Linked DNA regions of Homo sapiens. The protein of the gene in region 1 interacts with the protein of each later gene in a biochemical or structural test. Each region holds a gene or a part of one and is shown on either strand. Other genes may lie near its edges.

Evidence for each region.
Region 2: the proteins of CNOT10 (region 1) and TNRC6A form a complex in vitro, tested with the Homo sapiens proteins (one study listed by BioGRID).

Annotation. Positions count from the first base shown.
Region 1 is NC_000003.12:32,688,188-32,691,687, forward strand, and holds part of CNOT10 (CCR4-NOT transcription complex subunit 10), read left to right. Parts: intron 1-3,500. UniProt on the Homo sapiens protein: Component of the CCR4-NOT complex which is one of the major cellular mRNA deadenylases and is linked to various cellular processes including bulk mRNA degradation, miRNA-mediated repression, translational repression during translational initiation and general transcription regulation.
Region 2 is NC_000016.10:24,802,651-24,806,150, forward strand, and holds part of TNRC6A (trinucleotide repeat-containing gene 6A protein), read left to right. Parts: intron 1-1,526; coding exon 1,527-1,669; intron 1,670-2,054; coding exon 2,055-2,201; intron 2,202-2,363; coding exon 2,364-2,501; intron 2,502-2,954; coding exon 2,955-3,083; intron 3,084-3,500.

The DNA.
Region 1 (3,500 bases):
TACTTTAGGAACTGGGCAGGAACAAAACAAAGTCTCTGTTCTGGAGCTTATTTACTATGAAGGACAGATAAGCATGTAAATAAAATGAAAAATAAGATGATTTCAAGTTGTGATAGATACTCTGAAGAAGGCCAAGTGCAGTGGCTCACACCTGTAATCCCAGCATTTTGGGAGGCTGAGGGGGGTGGATCACCTGAGGTCAGGAGTTCAAAACCAGCCTGACCAACATGGTGAAACCCCATCTACTAAAAATACAAAAATTAGCCAGGCATGCTGGCGCACACCTGTAATCCCAGCTAGCTGGGAGGCTGAGGCAGGAGAATTGCTTGAACCTGGGAGGCAGAGGTTGCAGCAACCCGAGATCGCACCACTGCACTCCAGGCTGGGTGACAGAGTGAGATTCCATCTCAAAAAAAAAAATAATACTCAGAAGAAAAAAATGAGTAAGAGAGGCTGTCTGCAGTTGCTCACACCTGTAATCCTAGCACTTTGGGTGGCTGAAGTGGGAGGATTGCCTGAGGCCAGGAGTTTGAGACCAGCCTGGGCAGCATAAGTGAAACCCTGACTCTAAAAAATAAAAAGCCAGATATCATGGTGTGTGCCTATAGTCTCAGCTCCTAGGGAGGCTGAGGTGGGAGGATTGCTTGTACCTAGGAGTTCAAGGCTGCAGTGAGCTTTGATCACGCCACTGTCCAGGCAACAGGATGAGACCCTCTCTCAAAAAAATAAAATAAAAGGCCGGACGTGGTGGCTCACGCCTGTAATCCCAGCACTTTGGGAGGCCGAGGTGGCAGATCACGAGGTCAAGAGATCGAGACCATCCTGGCTAACACAGTGATACCCCGTCTCTACTAAAAATACAAAAAAATTAGCAGGGCCTGCTGGCGGGTGCCTGTGGCTCCCACCTGTAATCCCAGGACTTTGGGAGGCCGAGGTGAGTGGATCACCTGAGGACAGGAGTTTGAGACCAGGCTGGCCAACATGTTGAAACCCTGTCTTGACTAAAAATACAAAAATTAGCTGGTCGTGGTGGCAGACGCCTGTATTCCCAGCTACTCGGGAGGCTGAAGCAAGAGAATCACTTGAACCCAGGTGGCAGAGGTTGCAGTGAGCCAAGATCGTGCCATTGCCCTCCAGCCTGGGCAACAAGAGCAAAACACCATCTCAAAAAAAAAAAAAAAGAAAAAGAAAAAAAAGAATAGAGGATGACTGAAAGCCTTGTTTTTCAGATAGATTAGAGAAGGGCTTTCTTAGAGTTGACATTTAGACAGAAACCCTAAGGATAAAGAGCCAGCTGTGTTGGGAAGAATGATCCAGGTAAGAGGAGCAACAAATATGCAAATGTACAGAACCCTTGCTTGGAAAATGTCTAAAGAACATCAAGCAGACCCCTTGAATACAAGCTCCCCGAAGATAGAGACTTTTGTCTGTGTTAGTTGTGTTCTAGCTCTAGTCCCTAGAACAATATCTGACAAGAGACACTCAACACATAATTTAAGGCTGGGCATAGATGCTCACACCTGTGGGAGGCTGAGGTGGGAGAATCGCTTGAGGCCAGGAGTTCAAGACCAGCCTAGGCGACATAGCCAGACTTGTCTCCGTAAAAAATAAAAAAAAATTAGCTAGGCATGGTGGCGTGACCCTGAAGTCCTAGCTACTCCAGAGTCTGAGATGAGAGGATGGCTTGAGCCCAGGAGTTGAAGGTTGCAGTGAGCTATAATTGTGCCACTGTACTGTAGCCTGGGTGACAGTGCGACCCTGTCTCAAACAGAAAACAAAAAAGCCAATACACATAATTTATAGCATAGGGAGCAAAGGCAGCATGGCAAGAGATAAAGTCACAGTTGTATCAGGAGTTGGTGTATGTTGGGCGTTACAGGCCATGGAGGGAGTTTGAATTCATTTTAACTAATGGGAAGAGAGTGGAAGTTTTCAATAAGGGCATGATGGTGTGATCTGATTTATATTTAACTGATCCAGGTAAGGAATGATAAGAGTAGGGGCTTTGAAATCAGATAGTTTAGGTTCATCCTAGCTGTACTACTTGGTATTTGTGGGAAATTGGGCAAATTTCAAGAAGTCTTTTTTTTAAGCTTCAGCTTTCCTGCGTGTAGAATGAGAACGATGAAAGTATCTACCTCACAGGTATGGTAACAGGTTAAATGATATAATCTCAGGCTCTGAGTTTTTTGGTTTTTTTGTTTTGTTTTGTTTTGAGACAGGGTCTCACTCTTTCACCCATGTTGGTGTGCAGTGGCACCATCATAGCTCACTGCAGCCATGAACTCCTGGGCTTAAGCAATCCTCTTGCCTTAGCCTCTTGAGTAGTTAGGACTACGGGTGTGTACTACTGTATCCAGATAATTTTTTTTTTTTTGAGACAGAGTCTCGCTCTGTTGCCCAGGCTGGAGTGCAGTGGTGCGATCTTGGCTCACTGCAAGCTCCGCCTCCCGGGTTCACACCATTCTCCTGCCTCAGCCTCCCAAGTGGCTAGGACTACAGGTGCATGCCACCATGCCCGGCTAGTTTTTTTGTATTTTTAGTAGAGAAGGGGTTTCACCATGTTGGCCAGGCTGGTCTCTAACTCCTGACCTCATGATCCGCCCGCCTCGGCCTCCCAAAGTGCTGGGATTACAGGCATGAGCCACCGCGCCCAGACTTATTTGGTATTTTTTCAACTTTTTATTATGAATGATTTCAAACACCTAAAAAATTTAAAAAATAAAATGAATATCTATATATCTACCCCCTAGTTCATTCAGCAATTGTTATATTTTACCATATTTGCTTCCTCTATCACTAGCTATGACTTTTTTTTTTTTTTTTGAGATGGAGTCTCACTCTGTTGCCCAGGCTGGACTGCAGTGGTACGATCTTTGCTCATTGCAACCTCCATCTCCCGAGTTCAAGCGATTCTCTTGCCTCAGCCTCCCGAGTAGCTGGGCTTGCAGGCACACGCTACCACAGCCAGCTTTTTTTTTTTTTTTTTTTTGAGATGGAATCTCACTCTGTTGCCCAGGCTGGAGTGCAGTGGTGCAATCTCGGCTCAGTGCAACCTCTGTCTCCTGGGTTCAAGTGATTCTCCTGCCTCAGCCTCCTGTGTAGCTGGGACTACAGGTGTGTGCCACCATGCCTGGCTAATTTTTTGTATTTTTAGTAGAGACGGGGTTTCACTGTGTTAGCCAGGATGGTCTCGATCTTCTGACCTCATGATCCACCCACCTCGACCTCCCAAAGTGCTGGGATTAACAGACGTGAGCCACTGTGCCTGGCCATGCCCAGCTAACTTTTGTATTTTTAGTAGAGACGTGGTTTGACCATGTTGGCCCGGCTGGTCTTGAACTCCTGAGCTTAAGTGATCTGCCCGCCTCGGCCTCCCAAAGTGCCGATGTGAGCCAACACACCTGGCTCTAGCTATGACTTTTAATGTTGAATCATTTCAAAATAGGTTATAAACATCATAACACTTCATCTCTAAATATTTCAACATGCGTTTCTTA
Region 2 (3,500 bases), on another chromosome or scaffold:
TGGGCATCACTTGAATGGGAGTGACTGCTGATACCCTGATAGTGAATGAAGTCTAAGGAAAGCAAGTTTACAGAGAGAGTCAAAAGACTGAGACCCTGAGTCTACTTTGTCAGCCGCAGAGTATCCCAGCATTGAAGAAGCACCCGAGGTGAGCTCAGCATGGGTAGAGGAAGAGAAACCAGAATGGACAGATGGTGAGGAGGGGTGGTAGAGAGCATTGTCCACTTTTAAAAGATTTGTTGAAATAGAGCAGTAGCTTTTGGGCCGGAGCTGGCTATATCCAGCAAAGATTTTGCAGGAAAAAAGTTTCCAGGAGAGAAGATCATTTTTTATTGCAGAGCAGTCAGAATGAGGAGAGGAGCAGACAGAGCAAAGCCTAAGAGAGGGGAAGATGTTACCCTGTCTGGTGTCCAGTTTCCTCATCTGCTAAAAGGGCGATAACAGTAGAGTTACAAACATTAAATTAGTACACATAAAGCATTCATAGGCCAGGTGCGGTGGCTCACGTCTGTAAATCCAGCACTTTGGGAGGCCAAGGCAGGCAGATCACCTGAGGTCAGGAGTTTGAGACCAGCCTGGCCAACATGGGGAAACCCTGTCTCTACTGAAAATAAAAAAATTAGCTGGGTGTGGTGGTGGGTGCCTGTAATCCCAGCTGCTCAGGAGGCTGAGGCAGGAGGATTGCTTGAACCCGGGAGGCAGAGGTTCCAGTGAGCCAAGATCACACCACTGCACTCTAGCCTGGGCTACAGAGTGAGACCCCTTCTCAAAAAAAAAAAGAAAAGAAAAAGCACTTATAATGGCGACTGACATAAACCAGGCATTTATTAAATGGTGGTTTATCACAGTGGGTGTTGATTGTTTTTATTACTTGTTAATGGAAACTTACCTGTATTATAAAACTCAGCAGATTAGAGATGGCTAAAGGTGCCTTAAGTTATGTAACCTAAGAGTCCTTTTAAAACGAGGCCGGGCCTGGTGGCTCATACCTGTAATCCTAGCACATTGGGAGGCCGAAGCGGCCGGATCACTTGAGGTCAGGAGTTCAAGACCAGCCGGGCCAACATGGAGAAACCTACATCTCTACTAATAATACAAAAAATAGTCAGGTGTAGTGGTACACTCCTGTAATCCCAGCTACTCGAGAGGCTGAGGCATGAGAATTGCTTGAATCTAGGAGGTGGAGGTTGCAGTGAGCCGAGATCCCACCACTGCACTCCAGCCTGGGCCACAAAGCGAGACTGTCTAAAATAAAAAAGAAAAAAAAAGTGAGGTTATCAGCCAGCCACCTTCTGTTTACTAGTCTATTTCAAGTTAATTATTTCAGTAAAATAACAGTATCTCCTAATTGCGACTTCATTTGTGAGGAATGCAAAATTTATGAAATGGAAGTGTATTTTTCACATACCCTTGTCTTGGCTGAAGTCATTTCAGTTTGGAAAGTGAGTGTTTTGCTTTTGTTGTAAATTTATCTGAAACCAATTGGGTTGTCTTCCTGTTTGATAACAGTCTCCTGCCTTTATTAGGAATGTTACAAGACAAACGAATGGAGATAGATAAACATAGCCTAAATATTGGTGATTACAATCGAACGGTCGGGAAAGGCCCTGGTTCTCGGCCTCAGATTTCCAAAGAGTCTTCCATGGAGCGCAATCCTTATTTTGATAAGGTAAGGTTTTTTACTTTTACCTCTGACTTGATAAACCAGTATACTTCATAGCGTAATTTTCACACTAATATTTTAAAACCTTTTATATAATATAAAGTGTTACAATCCACTACCAAATCTTATTACTGGATTTTGAAGTTCACTGTCTTTTTATGTCTCAATTTATCATAGAGGTTGCATTTATATTTTTCTTCTTAATCCCATGAAATATGTTTGGCTCTTTTTGTGTGCTCTAGAATTAACACTAATCCGATCTCTTCTGTTTTCTACCTGTTTCCTGTTGATGCTGGAATGTCATGTGACTTCTCTTCTGTTCCTGCAATGATTTCTCCCTTCCACTTGTTTGCTTGGCTGGTGTTGCACATCTTTCTGTCTGTCCAATCAGGATGGCATTGTAGCAGATGAATCCCAAAACATGCAGTTTATGTCCAGTCAAAGCATGAAGCTTCCCCCTTCAAATAGTGCACTACCTAACCAGGCCCTTGGCTCCATAGCAGGGCTGGGTATGCAAAACTTGAATTCTGTTAGACAGGTAAGTCCAGATGTGTATTTTAGGCTCTCAGTTGAATGATTTGTATTAGTAATAAGATCTCTCTTACATGTAGTTACTGTGTTTAAATCATAGTACAGTGTGGTAATGAGATGTTTGTCCCTAAAGAATCCCACTGTTACTTGTTGCTGTTTGTTTTTATAGAATGGCAATCCCAGTATGTTTGGTGTTGGAAACACAGCAGCACAACCCCGGGGCATGCAGCAGCCTCCAGCACAACCTCTTAGTTCATCTCAGCCTAATCTCCGTGCTCAAGTGCCTCCTCCATTACTCTCCCCTCAGGTAAATAAGCTTTCCTTACATTCTCCTGTTTACCTGCAAAAAGGATCTTGCATGATTTTGTATTTGAATAAAATGGCTAACTAAGCATTATCATATTTATTGGCATCTTTGAGATTCAGCTAGTTTTGAATTAACTATTAAAAAAGGTTGTAGTAAGGAAAAGTCAAGGATAATTTAAATCCAAAATTTACCATTTTCTTCTTTAAAACATTCTTGAGAGTAGGACAAAAGCAAAGTAAAATTGACTAGTTTAAGATGCACCTCTGTCATCTTTTACTTAACCCACGAAAAAGTGTAAGTGAGTGGTCAGTTAGTAAGACAGAGACAAAGACTATAACCCCCAATGAATAGTCCACAAATTTAACTGCTCTATTGACAACTGAAAACACACAGTACGTGTAGTTAGTGTGAGTTATTTTATCAAGATCATTAACTTACCATTGTGATCCTAAGGTTCCAGTTTCATTGCTGAAGTATGCACCAAACAACGGTGGCCTGAATCCACTCTTTGGCCCTCAACAGGTAGCCATGCTGAACCAGCTATCCCAGCTAAACCAGCTTTCTCAGATCTCCCAGTTACAGGTAAGCAGAGTCATAGTCTTTCTTAGTACACATTTATGGAGCATCTACTGTATGCCAAACACTAGACTCTGTGCGGGACATAGTGCACTAAACAAAACAGGCGTAGTCATAGTCCTCATGGAGCTTACAGTCTATCGGGGGAGACAGATCGTGAACATTTGTGAAGAATGTCTTGAAGAAGTGCAGAATGCTGTGAGAGGAAACCTCAGCCAAGTCCAGGGTGCTAGTGTTAGTAGGATGATTAGGAAAAGTTTCTCTGTTGAAGTGAAAGTTTAGATTGAACTAAAGACTGAATTTCAGCAGTGACTAGAAACCAGAGAGTCCAAGGAAGAGATGGTACTAGATAATGCTAGACATGTTGGCATTGGCTAGATCACGTCGTGCCTCTGTAGGTCCATCTGCTGTCGTCATTTGGAA